Linked DNA regions of Homo sapiens. The protein of the gene in region 5 interacts with the protein of the main gene of each other region in a pairwise test. Each region holds a gene or a part of one and is shown on either strand. Other genes may lie near its edges. The genes, in order: RNF183, ZC3HC1, STAC2, KRTAP8-1, ATXN1, PCMT1 and SNAP29.

Evidence for each region.
Region 1: the proteins of ATXN1 (region 5) and RNF183 interact in binary tests that used the Homo sapiens proteins (3 or more experiments, as listed by UniProt).
Region 2: the proteins of ATXN1 (region 5) and ZC3HC1 interact in binary tests that used the Homo sapiens proteins (3 or more experiments, as listed by UniProt).
Region 3: the proteins of ATXN1 (region 5) and STAC2 interact in binary tests that used the Homo sapiens proteins (3 or more experiments, as listed by UniProt).
Region 4: the proteins of ATXN1 (region 5) and KRTAP8-1 interact in binary tests that used the Homo sapiens proteins (3 or more experiments, as listed by UniProt).
Region 6: the proteins of ATXN1 (region 5) and PCMT1 interact in binary tests that used the Homo sapiens proteins (3 or more experiments, as listed by UniProt).
Region 7: the proteins of ATXN1 (region 5) and SNAP29 interact in binary tests that used the Homo sapiens proteins (3 or more experiments, as listed by UniProt).

Annotation. Positions count from the first base shown.
Region 1 is NC_000009.12:113,300,577-113,304,853, forward strand, and holds the start of RNF183 (E3 ubiquitin-protein ligase RNF183), read right to left. Parts: upstream 2,801-4,277; 5' UTR 2,480-2,800; intron 2,474-2,479; exon of another isoform or gene 1,738-2,473; 5' UTR 1,619-1,737; exon of another isoform or gene 1,176-1,618; 5' UTR 1,096-1,175; exon of another isoform or gene 1-1,095. UniProt on the Homo sapiens protein: Acts as an E3 ubiquitin ligase catalyzing the covalent attachment of ubiquitin moieties onto substrate proteins. Triggers apoptosis in response to prolonged ER stress by mediating the polyubiquitination and subsequent proteasomal degradation of BCL2L1.
Region 2 is NC_000007.14:130,034,375-130,037,874, reverse strand, and holds part of ZC3HC1 (zinc finger C3HC-type protein 1), read left to right. Parts: intron 1-3,500. UniProt on the Homo sapiens protein: Required for proper positioning of a substantial amount of TPR at the nuclear basket (NB) through interaction with TPR.
Region 3 is NC_000017.11:39,215,946-39,219,445, reverse strand, and holds part of STAC2 (SH3 and cysteine-rich domain-containing protein 2), read left to right. Parts: intron 1-1,272; coding exon 1,273-1,579; intron 1,580-2,272; coding exon 2,273-2,370; intron 2,371-2,545; coding exon 2,546-2,636; intron 2,637-3,500. UniProt on the Homo sapiens protein: Plays a redundant role in promoting the expression of calcium channel CACNA1S at the cell membrane, and thereby contributes to increased channel activity. Slows down the inactivation rate of the calcium channel CACNA1C.
Region 4 is NC_000021.9:30,812,197-30,814,645, reverse strand, and holds KRTAP8-1 (keratin-associated protein 8-1), read left to right. Parts: upstream 1-1,371; 5' UTR 1,372-1,425; coding exon 1,426-1,617; 3' UTR 1,618-1,949; downstream 1,950-2,449. UniProt on the Homo sapiens protein: In the hair cortex, hair keratin intermediate filaments are embedded in an interfilamentous matrix, consisting of hair keratin-associated proteins (KRTAP), which are essential for the formation of a rigid and resistant hair shaft through their extensive disulfide bond cross-linking with abundant cysteine residues of hair keratins.
Region 5 is NC_000006.12:16,754,961-16,758,460, reverse strand, and holds part of ATXN1 (ataxin-1), read left to right. Parts: intron 1-3,500. UniProt on the Homo sapiens protein: Chromatin-binding factor that repress Notch signaling in the absence of Notch intracellular domain by acting as a CBF1 corepressor. Binds to the HEY promoter and might assist, along with NCOR2, RBPJ-mediated repression. Binds RNA in vitro.
Region 6 is NC_000006.12:149,752,741-149,756,240, reverse strand, and holds part of PCMT1 (protein-L-isoaspartate(D-aspartate) O-methyltransferase), read right to left. Parts: intron 1-3,500. UniProt on the Homo sapiens protein: Initiates the repair of damaged proteins by catalyzing methyl esterification of L-isoaspartyl and D-aspartyl residues produced by spontaneous isomerization and racemization of L-aspartyl and L-asparaginyl residues in aging peptides and proteins.
Region 7 is NC_000022.11:20,872,507-20,876,006, forward strand, and holds part of SNAP29 (synaptosomal-associated protein 29), read left to right. Parts: intron 1-3,500. UniProt on the Homo sapiens protein: SNAREs, soluble N-ethylmaleimide-sensitive factor-attachment protein receptors, are essential proteins for fusion of cellular membranes.

The DNA.
Region 1 (4,277 bases), on a different chromosome or scaffold from region 5:
TATATAGGAATCCAGCCACGCACAGTGGAGGAAGAGCGTTGCAGGCCCAGGGAACAGCATGTGTGGCCCCGAGGTGAGAAAAGCTCTTCCAATTTGAGAAAGTGAAAGGAGCCCAGGGTGATCAAGGTGTGGTGACCGGAGTAGGCAAGGTGGGAGGGTATAGTACTCGGGACCTGTGAACTCAGGAGCTCATCTGGATTTTATTCCAGGGGTGAGCGGTAGGGTAAGGTACCTGATCCTATTTCCATTTTTAAAACACCATTCTAGCTGCAGAGCAGAGGACAGGCTGAGAGGGATAAGATCGGGAAGGGAACACCCGTTCGGGCTGCAGCAGTGTGGCTCAGGCGTGTGATGGTGGTGCAGGTTAGGCAGTGGCAGAGGAGATAAAAGGGGATGGGATAAGTGATATCTTTGGGGACAGAATCAAAGCCACTTCCCAAGAAGCAGTGGAGTTCTAGGGATCCAGTTGTAGTTTCTGTCAAGGTTCATGATGCCAGATCCATGGCTATTTAGGGCTGTGATTCCAGTTGAATTGCTTGACCTCTCTGTGCCTCTATTTCTCCTTGTGCAAAGGAAGCCAAAACTAGTAAAGCTTTTAGTTAGAGCCCAGCACCCAGTAAAGACCACAAAGCAATGCATGACCTAAAAATGGGACTATGTTCTCAGAAACACATCGTTGTATGAACAGCACAGAGAGTATTTACACAAACCTAGATGGTAGAGCCTGCTACATGCCTAGGCTATACGGTCTAGCCTGTTGCTCCTAGGCTACAAACCCATACAGCTTATTATGTTCTGAACACTGTAGGCAATTGTAACACAATGATAATTGCGTGTGTCTTTCAACATAAACTTAGAAAAGGCAAGGTAAATATATGGTATTATAATCTTAGGTGGCCACCATCACATATGTAATTCACTGTTGATCAAAACATTGTTATGGATATATGAGGCAGTTGAAATTATTAATGCAAATGGATTTGAGAGAAAGGAAGGGTCAAGGTTGATTTCAAAGCCGTGACAAAGTCCTCTGCATCAAGCTTTGAGAAGCCCCTGAATCCCAGAGTGTGTTAGAAGCAGATCTTTAATACTTACCAGAGGCCGTAAACTGTATGTAACCTTGACTCATCATTTCCCCCACTGGGAATCGATTCCACGGAAACCATCAAGGACTTCTGCAAAGATGTGAGTAAAGAGATGCCCATCCAGGCGCTGGTTTAACGGTGACGTATGGAGAACTACGTCATCATCCAGTAATAGGACATTGATTAAGTAGATTCTGCTCCATCCATAGGAAGAGATATTATGCAGCCTTTAATATGATGTGGTAAAACTATTAATATGGATATATACCTAGGATATAATGTCATTAAGCGAAAAAGAACCAGCAACAAAACCATATTACCATATAATCCAATTTCCAAAAGTGTGTGTGCAATGGAAAAAATGTCTGGAGAGATAAACAACCAGATATTAGCAGTGGTTATCTCTGGGGGCAAGATTATAAGTTTTTTTTTTTTTTTTAATTCTCTTACCTGAAAATTCTAACTTTACTCCATCCAGTAAGCTTGTATTACTACACGTCAAGATCTCCTGTTTCCCCCCAAATCAGACCTACCTTCTCTGAAGTTCCATGGCCAGAACTGTAAAAGGCTGTCCAAGAGGAGGAAGCATCATTATTGCCTGGATCTTTATCTGTGCTGCTCTCCCAGGGATCCACTGCTGTTTCAGGATCAGCTGGGGAGAGATTCTGGCCATGTATCACCTCCACCCCAAGCCAGGACATCTCAGCTACAGTAAATCCTAAACACCGCCCCAAAGTCATCTCCTTGGTCTATGAACAAGTCATCGCCAAATATCAATTGTCCCCAGCATCACTCCATTGTTTTCAACCAAGAACTGGCATTTCCATAGCACTTCACAGTTTACAAAGGGCCCTGGCCCTTGCTAAGATCTAAGTGTGGTGATCCATCTAGATAGGTTACTAGCCTTTTGGGATTTTTTGTTGTTGTTTGCAGAAAGCCATTTGATACTCTAAAACCACCCTGTGAGAGAGGCTGAATGGGGAGTAGAAAGGTGCCGGCTTTGGAACCAGATTTGGAACAATTTGTCTTGGACAAATGGCTTAACCTCTCTGAACTTCATTTTCCTCTGTAAAAAAGGCTAATCATCCCACTCCTACAAGGTTGCTCTGGGGAAGGAATAGTCTATACGGTGCCCAGTAGAATACGGAAGGCGCTCAATACAGAGTTAGCATGATTATTTTTAGACCCATTTTCTAGATGGGGAAGCCAAGGCTCAGAAGGGTGAGGCAACTTGCCGAAGTCTTCCCAGCTAAAGAGTGGCTGAGTTTGAAAGATGAACCCAGTAGCCTGCCCTCCCAGGCCAGAGTTCACCTGTCGCGCGCTGCACGGCTGCTGCCTCTCTGGACTCTGGAGCCCTGTGACCCGTCCCTCCGCGACCCTCTCTGTCTCCTTACCTGCTCCCTCGGAGCCGCCTCCTCCGCCTCCGTTCGTGCAGCCCTGCACGCATGTGCTTTGTTTTCTGACTTCCCAGGCCCGATTTCCAGGTAGCGTGGGTGGGTCTTATTTGCATAGGTCTTAGCAGCGTTTGGCCAGCTCTCGCTGTTTCAGGTTTTCTTCTTCCTTCTGGTGACTTTGGACCTCCTGTACACCCTGGAAGCTTTGGTTGCTTTGTCTTTCTCCTGTGAGTCACTCTGGCTTTTTCTCTGAGGGGATCAAGTGCGCTCATCCTTGCAGGCCTCTGTTCTGGGTCCGATTGATCTCCTGCCATCCCCTCGGATTCCACTGTCCTCTGTGCGCTGACCTGCCTCGACTCCTGGCTTCTGCCGAGATGGATCCTTCCCTATGCTGAGTCCCTGTAACCAAAATACAGATAGCTCTTGCAAAATACTGACAAAAGCGGCCACTAATACAGCAGAAAAATAGTCGGGAGACGGTTGAGCGTCTGCCTGAAGAGCCAGGGTTCTCAAGCAAGGCACACTTCTAGGTCAGAGTTCAGCCCTCACTGAGAATCCAAACTCCGTTTAACTACCGATGGAGACTTGAGCAAATTAATTAACTTCTGCCAGCCTCAGTTTCCTCACCTGAAAATGGCCATAATAACCTACCTACTTGATCTGTAGATTAAATGAGGTAATACGTGTCGAGATCGCGTAATAACACAGGGCCTGGCAGACAGTAACTCGCTAAATGTTAACCAGAACTATTATTGTTATAACCGGTCTGTTCACGTGGCCCATCTTTTGTTCCCGCTCAAATTCTTTTTGTACCTATGGTCCTCTTTTCTTTCTCTCTCTCTTTCTTTCTTTTTTTTTTTCTTTCTTTTTTTTTTTTTTTTTTAAGACGTAGTTTTGCTCTGTCGCCCAGGCTAGAGTGCAGTGGGGCGATACTGGCTCACTGTAACCCCCACCTCCCTGGTTCCAGCAATTCTCCTGCCACGGCCTCCCGAGTAACTGGGACTACAGGTGCGCGCTACCATGCCCGGCTAATTTTTACATTCTTAGTAGAGACAGGATTTCGCCTTGTTGGCCAGGCTGGTCTCAAACTCCTGACCTCAGGTGATCCACCTGCCTCGACCTCCCAAAGTGCTGAGATTACAGGCATGAGCCACCGCGCCTGGCCCCTTATTTCTTTACTGACATTTTCAGCCATACTTGAGAAATAAACAAGTAAATAAATGTATCTGCTTGGTGATGTAATCAAATGCCCTAGTCCCCGCATTTTGTGTTTTTTTACATTAATTTTTATGTATTGATTTATTTTGAGACAGAGTCTCACTCTATCATCCAGGCTGGGGTGCGGTGGCACGATCACAGCTCACTGCAGCCTCAACCTCCTGGGGTCAAGCAGTCTTCCCACCTCCGCCTCCTGAGTACCTAGGACTACAGGTGCATGCCACCGTGGCTGGCTAATTTTTGTATTTCTTGTAGAGATGGGGTTTCTCCAGGTTGCCTAGGCTGGTCTCAAACTCCTGGGCTCCAGCAATCCACTTGCCAAAAGTGCTAAGATTACACTTGAGCCACCGTGCCCACATTTGATTTTTAAATAGGTAATATATTTACATGGTTGAGCATGTGAATGGTTTGATTTCACAGTGAAAACTGTCTCTTCGCAGCCACCTAGTTTCCCTGGAAATCAAAGTATTATACTATCAGTTTGTTGTGTATCTTTCCAAAGATGTTTTATACATACACAAACAGCATGTCCATGGCAAAACATCTATGTATTCCTTTACCTCCTTTTTACACAAATGTG
Region 2 (3,500 bases), on a different chromosome or scaffold from region 5:
TAAAAAAATTCTTTAGACCCATAGTTAAAAAGCAACACTATTCATCTGTATATTTCATGCCTTGACCAGGAATCAGTGCCATGTAGGTATATTTTTTATTTCAGTAGGATGGCAGGCTAATTCCAGGGTCACTGATGGCTAAGAATATTCCATGATTTACCACTAAAAGGAGAAAATAGATTGAAAATAACCAGAGATTCCCCTCTACCTTTGATCAATGAAAGGGTGGTAGAAAAGGGATTATTAAATAAAATTGTTTAAGTGAAGATGATTGTATAATAAGGATTTCCTGCTGTTGAAATAGCTAGGATTTACTAGTTATTTACCTGTATTGTATAACAAAACTTGGTCCTATGAGGATTTGATTCCATCCTTGTCTAGTGCACTCAGTCCAAGTTTGTTTGTTTGTTTGTTTGTTTGTTTTCCTTGAGACGGAGTCTTGCTCTGTCGCCCAGGCTGGAGTGCTGCAATGGCTCAGTCTAGGCTCACTGCAACCTCTGCTTCCTGGGTTCAAGCAATTCTCCTGCCTCAGCCTCCCGAGTAGCTGGGACTACAGGCGCGTGCCACCACACCCAGCTAATTTTTGTATTTTTAGTAGAGACAGGGTTTCACCATGTTGGCCAGGCTGGTCTTGAACTCCTGACGTCAAGTGATCCGCCTGCCTTGGCCTCCAGAATTGCTGGGAGGCCTGTAGGCGTGAGCCCCCGCGCCTGGCCGTCCAAGTTTTTAAGGTCTGCCCAGGGCTCTATTGGTGGTTCCCAACTCTTGTCACCGTACATTTTGCTTTCCTGATCTCATTCATAACTTCAGCTACCACCTCGGAGACCTCTAATTCCTATCCAGACCTCTCTTTTGAGCTTGACTCATATTTTCATCTACCTTCTAAACATTTCCACTTAATATTATAGGTACCTGGAACTCAATGTGTATAAAACTGAACTCTTCATCTTATACCTAAAACTTTCTCCATCTTGGCAAATGGCACTGACGTCCCATCCAGTTGTCCTAGCCAGAAACCTGAAAGTCACTTTAGATGCTCTTCTCTATGGTCACCCACTTTGACCTATCCATTCTACCTCCTACATGGATCTTAGATATAACCTTTCAATTATATGATCCCTTGGTTTGGTTCTTTAACATTCAAAGGACATTTGTGTGGATAAAAGAACACTCAGTTATTTCACTTTATGCTTAAATTTATTAAGCAAAACTAATAATTTTGAAGGTAATTTTTTTCTAACATTTGCCAATAATTATAAGCTAAATTAAATTTCTTTAAACATTTTATTTTATTTTATTTTATTTTTTATTTTGAGATGGAGTCTCACTCTGTCACCCAGGCTAGAGTGCAGTGGCGCGATCTTGGCTCACTGCAACCTCCGCTTCTTGGGTTCAGGCAATTCTCCTGCCTCAGCCTTCCGAGTAGCTGGAATTACAGGTGCCCGCCACCATGCCTGGCTAATTTTTCCCTCCTGAGTTCAAGCGATTCTCCTGCCTCAGCCTCCCAAAGTGTTATTTTTAGTAGTGACGAGGTTTCACCATTTTGGCCAGGCTGTCTTGAACTTCTGTCCTCAGGTGATCCACCTGCCTCTGCCTCCCAAAGTGCTGGGATTACAGGCGTGAGCCACCACTCCCAGCCTTACCTTGACTTTTAAAGCCAACTTTGTTCTTTCTCCAACTTTTCCCTTGGATTGCAAATTCATGCAGAGTCAACAAGTGCACCAAAGAAAATCCCCTGAATTGCGGAAAAAAAAAAAAAAACAGGCATATTACTCTTCAGAAAAATCAAAGCTAGAATGTTTATCTATTAAAATATCTCTCCCACCTAGGCTCAGATCAAATGGCTTCACTGTTGTGGCTCAGAAAGGGGCAGACTCCTTCCTTCCAAATCACCCCATCACAGAACACCCATTGCTAAGTAGCAAGCCAGAGGGTTAGACTGGATGCCCCATAAGAGGAGACTTCAAAGTGTTGAGACCTTCAAGTGTAGCCTGTGGAGGAAAATCTTAATCTGTGGGTGACAAAATAAGTGCTTCAGGACCACTTGCTCCAAATCCACATTCTGCAATACAGTCCAAGAAAAAAGGCAAAGTGGCGAGGCGTGATGGCTCACACCTGTGATTCCAGCAGTCTGGAAGGCCAAGGCGGGAGGACCACAAGGTCAGGAGTTCGAGACCAGCCTAGCCAATGTGGTGAAACCCCATCTCTACTAAAAATACAAAAAAATTAGCCGGGCGTGGTGGCACATGCCTGTAATCCCAGCTACTAGGGGATGTTGAGGCAGGAGAATCGCTTGAACACTGCACCCCAGCCTGGGCGACACAGTGAGACTCCATTAAAAAAAAAAGTGCTGATATATTTGGGGAATGCTGAATAGTTTCACAGGGCTCACTGCAACCTCCGCCTCCCAGGTTCAGGTGCGAAACTACGAGATTTTTTGAAGAAGGAAGCCACTTCACTCGGCTGTTTTTTTTTTTTTTTTTTTGAGACAGTCTCACTCTGTTGCCCAGACTTGAGTGCAGTGGCTTGATCTCAGCTCACCACAAACTCTGCTTCCCAGGCTCAAGCGATTCTTCTGCCTCAGCACCCCCGAGTACCTGGGATTACAGGTGCATGCCGCTACCACCTGGCTAAGTTTTGTATTTTTAGTAGAGACGGGGTTTCACCATATTAGCCAGGCTGGTCTTGAACTGCTGACCTCAAATGATCCACTCTCCTCGGCCTCCCAAAGTGCTATGATTACAAGCGTGAACCACTGTGCCTGGCCTCTAGGCTGAATTTGAAAGACCAGCAACAGTGGGTAAAAGCAAAAGGCCAAAGGATGGTACATTTGGGGAATGCTGTAATAGTTTCACAGGGCTGGCTCACAGTGTCCCTGTGGGGAGAATAGAAGAGAAGACTAAAGTGTAGACAGTGGCCAAACCATGATTTTATTAAATGTATGTGATGAGAAGCTACGAGATTTTTTGAAGGAAGAGATGTTATAGATAACATGAACTAGGGTAGAGTACAAACTGCAAGGGGTAAGTCTTGAGGCAAAGAACTAAACTTAGAAGACATAAAAGGACTTAAAGTAATAACCCCAGCCAGGCATGGAGTCTCATGCCTGTAATCCCAGTGTTTTGCAGGGCCAAGGTGGGAGGATCACTTGCGGCCAGGAGTTTGGGACCAGGCTGGGCACCCTGTCTCTACAAAGAAAAAATTTTTTAAAATTAGCCAGATGTGGTGGCATACCCCTGTCATCCTAAGCTACTCGTGAGGTTGAAGCAGGAGGATCCCTTTAACCCAGGAATTCCAAGTTATAGTGAGCTATAATCATGTCACTGCCTTCCAGCCTGCATGACAGAGCAAGACCCTGTCTCTTTTTTTTTTTTTTTTTTTTTTTTTTTTGAGACGGAGTCTCGCTCTGTCGCCCAGGCTAGAGTGCAGTGGCAGGGTCTCGGCTCACTGCAAGCTCTGCCTCCCGGGTTCACGCCATTCTTCTGCCTCAGCCAACCCAG
Region 3 (3,500 bases), on a different chromosome or scaffold from region 5:
CCAGAGGAGGGAGTGGGTCATGAGACAGAATTCCTGCAGAAGAGAGTTCCTGGAGGAGGAAGGACCAGTGGAAGCATATTGGCAGGATAAAGAGGGTATGAACTGAGTGAGGCAGAGAAGAGGACAAACATGTCAAAAGCTCAGAGGCATAAAAGCATGGATGAGTTTGAGAATTGAGGATTCTCAATTCTCAATGAATTGAGAAATGAGTTTCTGGGCTGCAAAGGCACAGGTTGGAAGGACAGGTTTGGCCAAGTTGCAAGGAGAGTCTCGTGGCTGGGGCGAGAGCCTTGGACGGTGTCCCGAGGAGCTAGGAAGAGTTTTTAGCAGGATCAGGCATCACCCCCGCAACAGCTGTATGGAGGACAGGTGGAAGCAGGGGGCTGGAGGGGAGGCTGTGGCCTTGAAGCAGACTGGGGCATCAGGGCCTGAACTAAGGGCTGTGAGGTGACGAGTCAATGGGAGGGAGGGGAGGGCTAGAGAGACTTTCTGTCGGGGAGAATCAGTCCCAAGGATGAGGGTCCAGGACGACCACTCCTCACCCCCCACCAGCCTGTTCGAGAACACAGGTGGATACTACGTTGCCCAGGCTGGTCTCCAACTGCTTGGCTCAAGCGATTCCCTCCCGCCTCAGCCTCTCAGAGTGCTGAGATTATAGGCAGGAGCCACCATACCGTGCCTATTTTTTTTTTTCTAAACTTGAGTAAATGGTACACCCATACAACAAAATACTTTGTAGCCATAAAAAAGAATGATGAATCTATTTATGTATGGGTATGGAATGATTTCCAAGATTTACTGTTTATGAAAAAAAGCAAGGCACAGGAAATATAGTATACTACCATTTCTTCAAAGAAAAATGGAATTAAACCACTTAAACTTGTTTCTATCCGATTTCACATAAAAGTCTAGATTTCTTTTGAAAAACTAGAAAACCTGGCAACAGCCTCAATTGGCTTGAGGAGACCTGCAGCTACTCCCTGGCCATCCAGTTTGCCACAGTCCCCACGGCTCTTGATTGCTGCCCACCTGGCCAGAACTCCTTTCTCCATGGAGGTCAACCACCTGGCTTTTGTGGCACCTGAGATTGCGAAGTGTCGTCGGGACCTGGGGAGCCTCTCTGTTGCTGTTTCATTTCGCTCTGGCCCTCAGCCCCCACGCTGCTGCTGCTGCTGCTGCTGCCGCCCCTACCGCCAGAGACACCCTGAAGGGAAGCCCGCCCTGGCCAGCCCCCTCTAGGCTCCCACTCACAGCTCCCTCTTTTTCTCCCAGCTCCAGCGATTCAAGCGCTCCCTCTCCCTCAAGACCATCCTCCGAAGTAAGAGCTTGGAGAACTTCTTCCTTCGCTCGGGCTCTGAGCTCAAGTGCCCCACCGAGGTGCTGCTGACGCCCCCAACCCCACTGCCCCCTCCCTCCCCACCACCCACAGCCTCGGACAGGGGCCTGGCTACCCCATCCCCCTCCCCATGCCCAGTCCCACGCCCCCTGGCAGCGCTCAAACCAGTGAGGCTGCACAGCTTCCAGGAACATGTCTTCAAGCGAGCTAGCCCTTGTGAGCTGTGCCACCAGCTCATCGTAGGTAGGTGCCTGGGCACTGAGGCGGCCACGGGGAGGGGCCAGCGTGGGTACTGGGGAGTGGGCTCATGTTGCGCCCAATATTATTGGGCTCTTGCTGTTCAGGAGCCCCAATACTAATTGTGCCTCTGTGCCTCTTTTTTTTTTTGAGACAGAGTCTTGCTCTGTCTCCCAGGCTGGAGTGCAGTGATGCAATCTTGGTTCACTGCAACCTCCACTTCCCTGGCTCAAGGGATCCTCCTGCCTCAGCCTCTGTAGTAGCTGGGACTGCAGGCACACACTACCATGCCCAGCTAATTTTAAAATATTTTTTGTAGAGATGGGGTTTTGCCATGTTGCTCAGGCTGGTCAAACCCTGGGCTCAAGCAATCCATCCACCTCAGCCTCCCAAAGTGCTGGGATTACAGATGTGAGCCATTGCACCCACCCCCAACTGTGCCTCTTACCCAAGGCAGAGAGAGGAGCACCACCAAGGGTGGGGGTATACTCAGTGTCACTGCCTCAGTGTCACTGCCATGTTTACTAACGACTCTGGCTTCCGTGCTCCCTCATACCCTGACTGTGTGAGGGGTAGGTGCTGGGCCTCAAGGCTGGCATGAGAATGCCCAACCCCTGCTCTCCTCATCCCCTAATGTGCCCCTCCTTTGCCTGTTGCCCACGGGGGTGTCCTCAATTGCTGAACCCAAATTCTTCCTAGGAAACTCCAAACAGGGCTTGCGATGTAAGATGTGCAAAGTCAGCGTCCACCTCTGGTGCTCTGAGGAGATCTCCCACCAGCAATGCCCAGGCAAGACGGTGAGCGGGGACCCAGGCAGAGATGGCCAGCTGAGTGCTGCCAGTACTGTCACATGGGAGAATGAGTATCCCTCAGGGCTGCTCCTTCCTGTGGGGTGGGCCCTGGGCTTGGGAAGGACCAAGTTCTCCATAGGCCATGACCTCCTCAAAACCTCTCTGCCCTCTCTTGCCATAGTCCACCTCCTTCCGCCGCAACTTCAGTTCCCCTCTCCTGGTGCATGAGCCGCCACCAGTCTGTGCCACAAGCAAAGAGTCCCCACCCACTGGTGAGTGCCCCCCCTGGCCGCAGTCCCTGCTCCCATTGTGGTGGGATGAGAAATCAACATCCCTGACCAGCCTGGCCAACACAGTGAAACCCCGTCTCTCAATTGCTTGAACCCAGGAGGCGGAGGTTGCAGTGAGCCAAGATCACGCCACTGCACTCCAGCCTGGGCTACAGAGTGAGACTCCATCTCAAAAAAAAAGAAAGAAATCAACATTTCTGAGATGGGTGCCTGAGTCACACTGGCACAGACAGTTCCTACCATTTCCCTTCTCTGGATGTTCCTGTCCTGAATTTGGGGTTCATTCATTCATTCACTCATCATTCCTTCAACAAGCACTTTATTAAGCACATACTAAGTGCCAGGCACAGTGCTGGACTCTGAGACACAGTAGTGAAGAAGGTGGAATTTATTGTCTAGTAAAGGAGATAGGACTGAAATGGACAGTCATGCAAATCATCAATCAATCACCATCAGCATGAGCGCCTTAAGTGGGGAAGATAAGGAATAGAGCATAGAATGTGTGCTGAAAGCTGGGTGTGGTGGCTCATACCTGTAATCCCAGCTACTTGGGAGGCTGAGGCAGGAGGATTGCTTGAGCCCAGGAGTTGGAGTCCAGCCTGGGCAACATGGTGAGACCCTATCTCTAAATTAAGAGAAAAGAAAAAGCTCGCTGTCTTCATCTGCAAAATCAGGGAAGACTTCCCAGAGATGTGAAGGATGAGGCATGAGGGGTTCATCCATTTAGGATCTGGAAAGACTGGTGTGGGGCAGAGGGAAGCCTGAGAAAGGAAGGACAGGGAGTTAAAGAAAGGGCAAAGTGCCAAGTGTGGTGGCTCACACCTGTAATCTCAGCACTTTGGGAGG
Region 4 (2,449 bases), on a different chromosome or scaffold from region 5:
ATATTTAAAAAAAATGCCTCTGCTGTAATTAGTCTACTGCTGGCTAGAACACTGGCATGGTTTTGAATTTTCCAAGTGTCTCATCTTGTTCTTGGATTCAGCCTTTGATTCCTAGCTGCTGATAGCAGGGAGCAAAGTTACCTCTGGGTTATGAAGTAAAATCTGGGAGAGCTCATGTGTAATACATATCTGTTTTGTGGCCTTCTAGAATGATTCCTATTATCTCTGTGCCTATTTCTGTTCCATATGCCCTCTTTGGTATTTGTTCTGTAAGTTCTCTACTAAGTGCCACTGTAAGAAATCTTAATGCAGGTGTCTGAGAATAATATATCAGGTCTTACATGATCCAAGATAGTTTTGATCAGCCTTATCCCTCCTTTAACTCATGCTTGAGAACTGACTCTCTGTTTAGAAAGGAATAACATTCCTTCTTTATCCTGGGGTGCATGATCATTGTAAAAGTGAAATAACTGATTTCATGTTGTCATCTGGCCCTTTATAATATCATCACATTTGTCAGACAATCTAGTTTCATTAGATCTAAGAGAAAAAAAATTTTAAATCTTACAATAAATTTTTTAATTCATTTTTCTGTGTTTACCTTATTAGTTTCAATGTTTAGTTTGAAATATGTTTCAGGCCAAAAAATTAAATTTGTTTGACAATTCAGTACAAGGATTAATCCAAATACTCCGTTTTAAAATCTCAATACTATTAATTCAAGTAGTCTTCTAGAAATGTGATGTTAGGTATAGTTTAGGAGGGGACTATGATTAAGATTACACTTTTAACCAGTTTCCCAAACACGGTAGCTGTAGTAGAGGAAAAAAAAAAGACTCTTTCTCATGAGTTCCATTGCACTTGTCTTTCATATTCCAAAAAAGAGAATCCTTGAAGCAGGTGAATACTAAGACATACTTTAATTTTGAGAATTTTGAGATAGACTCACTATCCATTTGTTATTTTATATATTAATGTATTTAACACATATTTATTGAATTTCAACTGTGTGTTGTGGAAATTCAGAGAGCAAGAGGACTGCATAACAGCTAACAACCTCAGAATATTTCTTGATATTATATACCTGCTTACAGAGTTATATGGGGTCTATAAGACAGAGTGCTTTGAAGTCCTGGCAATAATTTTTTTTTTTTTAGGAAGGGAAATAATTTGTTTAAAGGCATCTTCTCCCTGTATTGCATCACACGAGAGCTTTCTTAAGCCACTGTAAAGACATCATAAGCAAGAGCAAAACAAGTTAATGAGCTTTTTAGAATGTAAATTGGTGTCAAGAATGAAAATGAGGGCTTTGTGTTTTTCACCACCCACCAGAGCTGGGATATATAAAGAAGGTTCTGAGACTAGGAATCCATCCCACTGAGGAAACGCACTCTGTTGCTACCTAAGCCCTCCACTCCCGACACCATGCTCTGCGACAACTTCCCCGGGGCTGTCTTCCCAGGATGCTACTGGGGCAGCTATGGCTACCCGCTGGGATATAGCGTTGGCTGTGGCTATGGCAGCACCTACTCTCCAGTGGGCTATGGCTTCGGCTATGGCTACAACGGCTGTGGGGCTTTCGGCTACAGGAGATACTCGCCATTTGCTCTCTACTGATTGGCTGAAATCCCCGAGGTGTAGCATCTTCTCTCCCTTGAAGGCTGAGCCCCACATCTCCAGGTTCCCCCCGTATCCACTCCTTCAGTCCTCATTTGCTCATCAACCTCAGAGACACTGCTTTCCAACTTACCTCGAGTCCCAGGGGAGGAAAATGAAAAAGCAGACGCTTCCTCAAGCTGCCTCCCCTGGCTGATGTTCTCTGGGACATTTTCGGAAATTTGACCTCCCACTTGTCATGAGCTACTTTTGAATTTTCCATGACACTCATGACTTGTGATGAAGTCATGGATATGTCTATCAAAATCTCAATAAATTTGTCTCAGCTGGTATAATATTCTCATGCTAGAGCGAAGTTTCCTTTCTTGGTGTGTGCATATTTTCTGTTACATGGGTGGTGGGGGGGAAGTGAATTTATTTTTCTCATGTGGGCATTAGGAACAGCCAGAAAGCAAAGAATTACTGATCCTGTGTGATAAGCAGGTAAGAGGGTGGGTTGCAGGTAATGACTTAAAAGGTTGCCTGTTTGAACCTTCTTTAAATTTTATGATGCCCACCTCCAACCCAATGGAGCACCATTTATTGCTCGGGGTCCCCTTCTCATCTCACTACTTCTGCTCCTCCGCAAGAAAACCCAACACAGGAGGAACTTTTTCAGTCACTTCCATGTTAGTCCAAATGAAATCCACTGTGTTCCCTTTCCCAGGGACTAAGGATTATAGACTAAAGTGCCATGCCCCCTAATGAAGGATGCTGGAGCATTGAGTAATAGAGAAGCCACAGACATCCTTTGGAAATCTGAGAGTTTTTAAGGTGAAGGGATAAATCCCCT
Region 5 (3,500 bases):
AGTATGTAAATGCATCTCCCCAGACAGTGAAAGGAGCCTGACAATCCTGCTGGTGTTTATTGTGAACAGATCAACAAGTATTTGGTACTTGTTAGAAACCTTTCAGAGCTCACTAAAGCAACATTTCTTTTGCAGTCTGGTGCCTTTGGCCTTGCAGTCAGTCACTTAACCCTTTCAAGTGTGAAGAGCGTTCATCATTTGGAACCTCCATTGCCCATAGCGATGGCTGGATTTCTAAAGGGTTTACTCAGGGGAATAACTTATTCGGAAAATATATTCCCATTGTCACATTTTAAAACTTGACAGCCATCATAACAAAAACTGGTACTGACAGTAGGCAGACATTCTGAATGTATTCATTCTTAATTTGGATCTATTGGCTGTGATTTGAATGATCTTTGGTAGTAAGTTAAAAGGATTTTTTTTTCCTTAGCTAAGCGAGAAACGATAGAGGCCTATAGCTAGAGGACTGATAGTGCATGGTGCTTTTGGACAATAAACATGTACTTTATTTTAGGATGTAATTTAGTGAGCAGTTAGAAAGCAGTATTCTAGTCTTTGCATTAGGGCACCACTGATAAAGCTGGCTAAGCAAAGAGAAATAATATTATGGCAAAAAGGAAAAAAGGAAAAGTTGCTTTAGTTGCTGAAGCTCTGTGCTGCTCAGGCAATCCAACTAAGTGGGGCAGGGGGCGGGCGGGGGGGAGTATTTTCATAACCCTGGTATTTGAAAGAAAAGATAATTGAGAATTATGTCTTGATTTAGTTGTGACTGCCAGTCAGTTTACAATTTTATGGCCAACAAAGCTAAACTGGTAAATTTTTTCCCCCAGGGCTAGGATTGAGAGAGCTACTCAACTCTATTCCCAGGGGGTTTATGAGTTTTTACCGTTTTGTGAGTTTATGTGGTTGGTAAATTCATTGTGGCCTGGTCAGATGAAGCACTGCTGTAGTTAAAATGAGCTATTATTTCTTCTAGCTACTCAACTTTTATAAGGTGGTAAATAGATGGGAAGCAAGGATGTCAATATTACACAATGCCTTGGAGGTCCTGGATTCTATTTTGCAACATATAGAAAAATGCTTTACTTGCAGTAAAATGTGAACATATATTTTTCAGTGCACAAATAAATTCATGTGAAAATAAGTATAAAAAAATGTACCTGGTGGGAACCGCCAAAGGCAATATTTTTCCTTGCGGATTTCGTTTTAAGAGGGTTTGGTAAACAGAAGTGACACTTTGTCAAAAATGTTACGACTAGACTTCAGGACTTCTGAATTGTCTTTTACACTTAGAGGAAGATTAAACAGAAACTCTTTAGCCACAAGATTACATGTCAAATGCCTGTAAGTTTCAACATACCTAAGTCAGTTGCCTAGGAGTCCTGGGAAAGGCCAGTGCTGAGATTATTGAAATATTAGTAAACATTACTATGACTCCTGTTTTTGTTGTCATTATGGAGTCCAAGGACGCACATTTCTTTGAATAATGTTGTGCCTTTATTGTTTTTCATTCTGAAATGTCAAGTGGATTTTACTTTTTTGCACATACCTTGAGTGACAGTTTCTGATGACTAACACTAACACTCATTTTGTTTCCTATTAAAAGTTAAGCAATAAACATATTTTACTAAAATTCTGAAACTCACGTAAGTAGGTAAATGTGGGAGTGAATGTTAATTCTTTAAACTGTAGTTATCTGAAAATAACACATAGATTAGGATCTGAACAGCTTAAATACTTGCATCGGTAAAGTGACAATAGTGAAGTAAGACAGGCTATTATTTTTAGGGGAGAGATAGATTATTTGACTTTCCTTGCTCTGTATTTTCAGAGTAATTCAATAGTTCGAATGATTAGTTTCTGTGAGAGATTTAGATCTGTGCAGCTTAATTGCTTCAAATAACAGATTTAGTTCTGGTCATACTTCCAAGGTTATCAGAAGCAGGCCCTCCTTATTTTGATAAAAGCATTGAAAGCAATACATTGTAGAAATGGTAATAGAAATAATAATTTCTGTTTTAGGACCTTACATATAGAACTTCCTTTTCTAAGATAAGAATTTTAAGTCATCAATTATGTTCACATTTTATTTTCATGTAATTTAGTTTAATAAAATAAATGTACTCATTCAAAATTTTTTTAAGAAGTGATATACAGTGTCAGTTTTACAGAATTTTTTAAATGTTGGCTGAAAGAACGGTAATTACATTGAGATTTTTAAAAATATATAAATGCTTAAAATTACAGAAGTAATAAAAAGAATGGTTTTAGACAAATCTTATGGAAAGTTTTTTATTTTATTCTTTTATAATTATATTTATGGATATTTGTCTTTATTAGTGTAGTAATATATTTTATAACGCTCATAATTTGAACTTTCAGGCTAATGTACTATAAATATTTGTATTACGCATTACTACCATCCCAAATGTACCAAAACACGTTTAGAGAGAACAATTATGGACAAAAAAGCAACAAGCATTATATTTTGTTTGACATATTTCATGTTAGCAGAAATGTTTCATTGATTTTTCTGTAACTTTTAATGCATCCCATTTGTGGAGTAATGAAAATGTAATGATAATTGCCACAATGTAAGCAAAAATTGTATCCTACCTGAAAATTACTTTCCAGAAAATTCATGGTAGTGTACTCAGAATTTGAGACTCAAGAGGGCAGAGGTTTCCCCGATTGTGATGTTTTGATTTGGGCTAAGAGGAACTCTTTTTTTTTTTTTTTACACTTAGGTGCCCTTTAACATGACAAGTTTTGAATGAGTTAGGTAGCAGAAGTTTTTCGTGACAGTTATTGTAGCTACTAACCTATAGCATCTATCCTTCTAACGTTCAAAGAAAATATATTTTTCTGTCACTGTGTATGGCAAACTTTATTTTCTTGTGCCCTTAATTTTGTTCCCCTTTCTCACATTATCTCCTGGTACTTACTGACCATTACCTCAGTTTTGTTTAGGCCGTCTTTCTTGTTAATCTTCCAATATTAATAGTATTGTATTATGTTGCTCTGCTGGGTTTTAAAAATATTGAGTATTCCATTTTTGGTGTATATTATTGTATAAAATGTCCTATAAATTATTTTCTGGTATATTATTTTGTAAGTTTTTGCAGTGAATACGTGCTGCCTTGCTTGTATTCTTGCCTTCTTCCCTCTGATGGAATACAAGTTATGTAAACTCTCTGTATTATCCTAACTAGTGCAGCAACACAAATACTTTTGAAATAAGAAAGCATACTCATGCAAGAGTAAAGTAATCTTCTATGGCATTTACATCATGTTTGACCCTCCTCTGCACTTCAGCAAACTAGGAGGAGGTTGTAACTTGGACTCTATAAAACCTTATCTGCCAGGTGATATGTAAACAGGATTGTGTGCACACACATTGTCATATAGGCAAACACTCTCCCAACTGGTGAGCTCATAAAAAGCACTGTCTGTAAATTTATGGTACCTGCACCTCATTTGAGAATCAAGTATTTTGA
Region 6 (3,500 bases), about 130 Mb from region 5:
AAACTACAAATCATAATTCTTGCATATTCAAATGCCTACTAAAAATCTCGACTTAAATGTCTTATAAGAAAAGCATTCCTCAAAATAATCTGATCTCCCACAGTCCCCTCCTCACAGAATAAACGTGGCTGCTCACTCACTCACCATTTCCAATTTAGAAAATGGCAAATCATTCCAGTTGCCAAGGCCTAAAACCTTGGTGTTGGATCCTTGCCTCCAATCTTTTCTCCCAGATCCTAAATCCAAATCTGGAATTCGCTATTTCTTCTGCCTGGAATGCTTATCCCAAGTCTACCTGCGTGATATGTGTCTACTCCTCCAGCAAATCTTTGGTCTAATGATACCTTACTGAGGCCTTCTCTACAACTATAAACCTACTGCCCCACACACTCTGTCCTCCCTCCCTACTTTGTCACTTATCATGTGACATACTATACTTGGCTGCTCCCATTAGAAGCTACAAGAGGGAGTGGATGTTTGTTTTGTTCACTGCTGTATCCCCAGTGCCTGTCATATAGAAAGCACTAAAATATCAGCTGACTAAATGACAAATTCCATAAACATTATATATGTAAAATGACAAAATCAAGAATGCAAAAGAAACATAAGTAGAAACAATTGATCATTAGGGGAATGGACTGAATTATTTTTACAAATAAAAATAGATAAAAGAACAATTGCTTTCAGTGGTCAGTACAGTAGTTTCCCTTTACCCACAGGAAATACGGTCCAAGACCCTTAATAGATGCCTGAAACCGCATACAATACCAAAGCCCATACAGCCCATACAGATACTCAACATTTTTTTTTTTTTGAGACAAAGTATTGCTCCATCACCCAGGCTCGAGTGCAGTGGCATGATCTTGGCTTACTGCACCCTCAACCTCTCGGGCTCAAGTGATCCTCCCATCTCAGCCTCCCACGTAGCTCATGTAGCTGAGACTACAGGCATGCACCATAATGCCCAGCTAATTTTGTTTATTTTTTGTAGAGAAAATGACAAATGTTATTTTCACTATGTTGCCTAGGCTGGTCTCAAACTCCTGGACTGAAGCGATCCTCCTGACTCAGCCTCCCAAAGTTCTGAGATTACAGGTGTGAGCCACCGCACTCGGCCTTCCTTAACTTATAACAGGTTTATTATGACAGGTTTACATCCAGTAAAGTAAAAAACTTGTAAGTCAAACCACTGTTAAGTCAGGGACCATCTGTATGTTGTTTTCTTCCTATACGTAACATACCTATAATAAAGTTTAGTTTATAAATTAGGCACAATTAAGAAATTAACAAAAATAATGAATAAAATAGAACAAGTATCATTACATGCCAGCACCATTATTCTTGCACTTTGGGTCCATTATTAAGTAAAATAAGGATTATTTGGACACAAGCCCTGTGATACTATGACAGTCACTGCTAACCAAATAGGCTACTAAGTGACAAACGGGCAGGTGTAGACAGCATAGATATGCTGAACAAAGGGATGATTCATGTCACGGGCAGGATCAAGTGGGACGTCCAGAGAGTTCCTCACGCTACTCAAAACAGCACACAATTTAAAACTTATGAATTGCTTGTTTCAGGAATTTCCCATTTAATATTTTCAGACCTCAGTTGACTTGGGGTAACTGAAACTTCAGAAAGCAAAACCATGGGATAAGGGAGGGACTACTCTATAGCATTTGAAGCCTATCCATTAAGTTAACATCCCACAAACCCTCTGGTTTAAATACCCCTGCTCCAGAACATCACCTCACCTACTCTGGCTATCTTCCTAAATTTTACCATGGCTTGAAATTATCTCAATACGAGTAGGAAGTAAACTCTAATATAAACATTATTTAAATAGTCACATTCCCTGGATTAAGCAGGCTCACGGTTTCAAATTAAGCTAATTTGTTTCACGAGCACATTACCAGTCCATAATCATAAAATAATTGTATTTTTTCATTTCTAGAGACCTGTGCTGTCCAATATGGTAACTACTGGATACATGTGGTTATTTCATTAAGTTAATTTTTTAAAAAATTGAATTTCGGTTCTTCAGTTGTCCACATTTCAAATGTTAAATGCCACATGTAGCTAGTAGCTACCACACTGGACAATATAGAGAACATCACCAAGCACTCTATAGGGCAAGACTGCTATAGACTTTTTCTAAAACATTATTCTAAAGCATAAAACTGATTTAGCTGATATGCTGGCAGAATTCAACCTTATAATTTTCAATTCTCCATGTCACTGGTTCTCAAAATGTGGTCCCTGGACCAGCAGTGGCACCACTTACAAATCTGTTAGAAATACAAATTCTCAAGCTCCGGCAATCTGTATTTTGAAAAGCTCTCCAGGTGATTCAGGAGATTTTGAAGCATGCTCAAGTTTTAGTCACTGTTCTAAGTTACTTAAGAGTGGTTATAATATAAGCCATGACATAAGAAATCTACCATTACAATCTGAAATATTCTATAAATGATGCATCAACTATGAAATCATACAACCACAGTCCTATTATGATAGATTTTAATACAAAAGGAAAACAAAATATTCTTAACAAATTATATTAAGCTTCATTTCTTAAAAACAAAACAAAACAAAACAAAAAAAACTATTGGCCAGGTGTGGTGGATCATGCCTGTAATCCCAGCACTTTGGGAGGCTGAGGCAGGCAGATCACCTGAGGTTGGGAATTCAAGACCAGCTGACCAACATGGAGAAACCTTGTCTCTACTAAAAATACAAAATTAGCTGGGTGTGGTGGCGCCTGCCTGTAATCCCAGCTACTCGGGAGGCTGAGGCCAGAGAATTGCTTGAACCTGGGAAGCAGAGGTTGTGGTGAGCTGAGATCGTGCCATTGCACTCCAGCCTGGGCAATAAGAGCGAAACTCTGTCTCAAAAAAAAAAAACCATTAAAAATGTAATTTCCTTCCCCTTCTAGTAAGCAGGCCCCTTTTCATTTCAACATCAACACAATCACATTTTTATATTTTTCTAAGATTTCAATTAAAAGCCTTTAATTTAGGAAGAATATACACAGTAGAATAATGAGGAAGGAAGGCAATATTTTCAAATTTTATGTCAATTACAATTTTCACATGAGCAAGTATTACTTTTATAATAAGCTAATAAAAAGAAATCTATTAGCTAGAATTACCTCAGCAAGAAGTTGAAACTAAAGTTGCACAAGTGTTACAAAAGAGGCTAAACAACTATTCTACTCTAATTTCCTCTTACCAATCATAAATCTAGTATAAAACTATTTGCAAAATCAACATCTATGTATATTAAATATTCCTTATTAAATTTCCTGACAGAAAAACATCCTTAGAAATTTCAGCTAAGAACAGTAATGCAATACATTAAAGTGATTATGAAACCACCGGGAAAAGATCTATCTAGTCTTGGCTTACCACAAATTTGGCCCAAAAAAGGAGAGACTTTAAGAGCCTGATTGATTACAAATTTCTGCCACAGCCAAGTGCCTACTATGATAACCTACCGGT
Region 7 (3,500 bases), on a different chromosome or scaffold from region 5:
TCTCCTGCCTCAGCCTCCCGAGTAGCTGGGACTACAGGCGCCTGCCACCATGCCTGGCTAATTTTTTGTATTTTTAGTAGAGACGGGGTTTCACCGTGTTAGCCAGGATGGTCTCGACCTCCTGACTTCGTGATCCATCCGCCTCCGCCTTCCAAAGTGCTGGGATTACAGGCGTGAGCCACCACATCCGGCCTAATTTTTGTATTTTTAGTAGAGATGGGGTTTCACCATGTTGGCCAGTCTGGTCTCAAACTCCTGACCTCAGGTGATCCACCTGCCTCAGCCTCCTAGAGTGCCGAGCCACCACGCCAGGCTTTTTTTTTTTTTTTTTTTTTTTTTTTGAGACAGAGTCTCACTCTGTTGCCCAGGCTGGAGTGCAGTGGCACCATCTCAGCTCACTGAAACCTCTGTCTCCCAGGTTCAAGCAATTCTCTTGCCTCAGCCTCCTGAGTAGCTGGGATTACAGGCATGTGTCACCATGCCTGGTTAATTTTTGTATTTTTAGGAGAGATGGGGTTTCTCCATGTTGGCCAGGATAGTCTCGAACTCTTGATCTCAGATGATCCGCCCGCCTCAGCCTTCCAAAGTGCTAGGATTATGGGCGTGAGCCACCACACCTGGCCTCTCTCTTTGTTTTAATTCTGTAATGTGGAGCTTTTCTTTTTCATTTTATTTATTTATTTTTTAAGAGATGAGGTCTTGCTGTGTTGGCCAGGTTGGTCTTGAACTCCTGGCCTCAAGCAGTCCTCCCACCTCGGCCTCCCAAAGTGCTAGGATTACAGGCATGAGCCACCACACCTAACTGCAGAGCCGTTTTTTTTAATGCATCACTAAGGTACAGTAAAATATGTGCATCTTAAGTGGAGAGCCAGTGACTGTGAACCTGTGTACACTAGTGTGGCCACCACCCAGATCAAGATGTAGGGTGTGGCAGGGAGGAAATTAGATAACTACTTCAAACTCAGAGTGGGGCTGGGGAGAAACCAGTGTAGGTAACAAAGCTGGTGGTGATGGCAGAAAGAACAGGCAGGCGAAGCCATCAAGAGTTATGGAGAGGTTCAGGCATGGTGGCTCATGCCTGTAATCCCAGCAATTTGGGAGACTGAGGCAGGAGGATCACTTGATCCCAGCCTGAGCAACATGACAAAACCCCGTCTCTACAGAAAAACACAAAAATGAAGTTGGGCATGGTGGTTCAGGCCTGTAATCCCAGCACTTTGGGAGGCCGAGGCGGGTGCATCGTTTGAGGTCAGGAGTGTGAGACCAGGCCAGCCAACATGGTGAAACCCAGTGTCTCCTAAAAATACAAAAATCAGCCAGGCATGGTGGTGCCTGCCTGTAGCCCCAGCTACTTGGGAGGCTGAGGAGGAGAATCCCTTAAGCCTGGGAGGCAGAGGTTGTAGTGAGCGGAGATTGCACCACTGCACCTCAGCCTGGGTAACAGTGAGACTCTGTCTCAAAAAAAAAAAAAAAAAAAAAAAAAAAAAGGCCGGGCATGGTGAGTCACGCCTGTAATCCCAGCACTTTGGGAGGCCAAGGCCAACGGAGCACGAGGTCAGGAGATTGAGACCATCCTGGCTAACACGGTGAAACCCCGTCTCTACTAAAAATACAAAATATTATCCGGGTGTGGTGGCGGGCGCCTGTGGTCCCAGCTACTCGGGAGGGTGAGAAATGTGTATGGCGTGAACCCAGGAGGCGGAGCTTACAGTGAGCTGAGATCACGCCACTGCAACAGTGAGCTGAGATCACGCCACTGCACTCCAGCCTGGGCGACAGAGCAAGACTCTGACACACACAGACACACACAGACACACACACACACACACACACGAAAATTAGCCACACACACACACACACACACACACACACACACACACACACACACACGAAAATTAGCCGGACATGGTGGTACGTGCTTGTGGTCCCAGCTACTGAGGTGGCTGAGGTGGACCCGACCTTTTGGCTTAGGTGGGAGGATCACCTGAACCCAGGGAGGTTGAGCCTACAATGAGCTATGATTGTACCAGTCTACTCCAGCCTGGGTGACAGAGTGAGACCCTATCTCAAAAAAAAAAAAAAAAAAAGTACTGCAGGAGGGACCTGCAGAGTTGGCCCTGGGAACCTGCCGGCCTCAGTGAGTGCCCTGGGGAGGCACTAGCTAAGGTTATGAGGGTTGGTTGGTTTTTTTGGCTCAGCCATAATCACCATTCTGGGTTCTCCAGCTCAACCCTAATTTTAAACATCCGCCATTTCCCTCCAGTTCTAGTCGTTGCTTGTTTTTTGTTGTTTTTTTTTCAATATACATATCAGAAAGATGTTTTATATCCTAATCTTTGGCCACATTTAATTGCCATAGGAGAAGGTAGGATGTTCATTTGTTTTGGTCTAAGACATCCTCCATGTACAAACTCAGGAGCAGAGTGAGCCCTTGGAGGAGTGGGAAGCTGGCAAGTTTGTGACTAGCACCCTTTCACACCCTTCCACATCCTACATACCTCTTCACAAAGGCTGCTTCTGGGGCTCTTGGAGGCCCCTGCATCCCTGAACATAGCTATGAAAGCCATGGAAGTCCTGTGGCTCCAGGGGCAGTTTTCTTTTTTTGGAGCATCATGAAAACTCAGGGGCTTCCCAGCAAAGGCTTCCATCAGTGAGGCAGCCATAGTTATTTCAGTGAGGTGGGCTTTGTCTCTTGGGAAGTCCTGTTTGTCCTTGCTGACAGCTTTCCAAGCTGCTTGTTCTCATTTCCACTTAAAGCTGATGCGTTCCCGTCAAGGTCCCCAAAGTCATGTACCCTGCCTGGCCTGCCCCTAGATTAGCCCCAATCAGTTGTAGCATTCTTGCCATCTCTTAGTAAATTCAAGAAAGCAAAACTTTCACCCACACTCTGCAGTTCTGTGGGAGCAGAAGCTGCAGGAATGCAGTCTGTCTGTTGGAAGATATGGGGGAGGCAGACAGTCCACAGGGATGCAGTGGGGACCCAGAGGAGAGGGAGGTTGGCCCTGGGAACAGAGGAAGGCTGCACAAAGGACCTGACTTTTTGCAGAAGGTGAAGGTTTTGAGGGAACCCACCAATTGAAGGAGGGGTTGGTGCAGGCACATGGCAGTAAAAGCACAGGGGAAGCCGGGATGAAGGAAGTTGTTGGCCATTTCAAGGGCCCAGCAGGGCCAGACACAGTGGCTCATGCCTGTTATCCCAACATTTTATAAGGCCAAGGCAGGACAATCACTTGGGGCCAGGAGTTGAAGATCAGCCTGGGCAACATAGCAAGATTCTGTCTCTACAAACATAAAAAATTTTTAAAGCTGGGCATGGTGATACAGGCCTGTAGTCATATTTACATGGACGACCAAAAAAAAAAATGGGGGGGCGGCTGGGTGCAGTGGCTCACGCCTGTAATCCCAGCACTTTTGGGAGGCTAAGGTGGGCGGATCACGAGGTCAGGAGATCGAGACCATCCTAGCTAACACGGTGAAACCCCGTCTCTACTAAAAATACA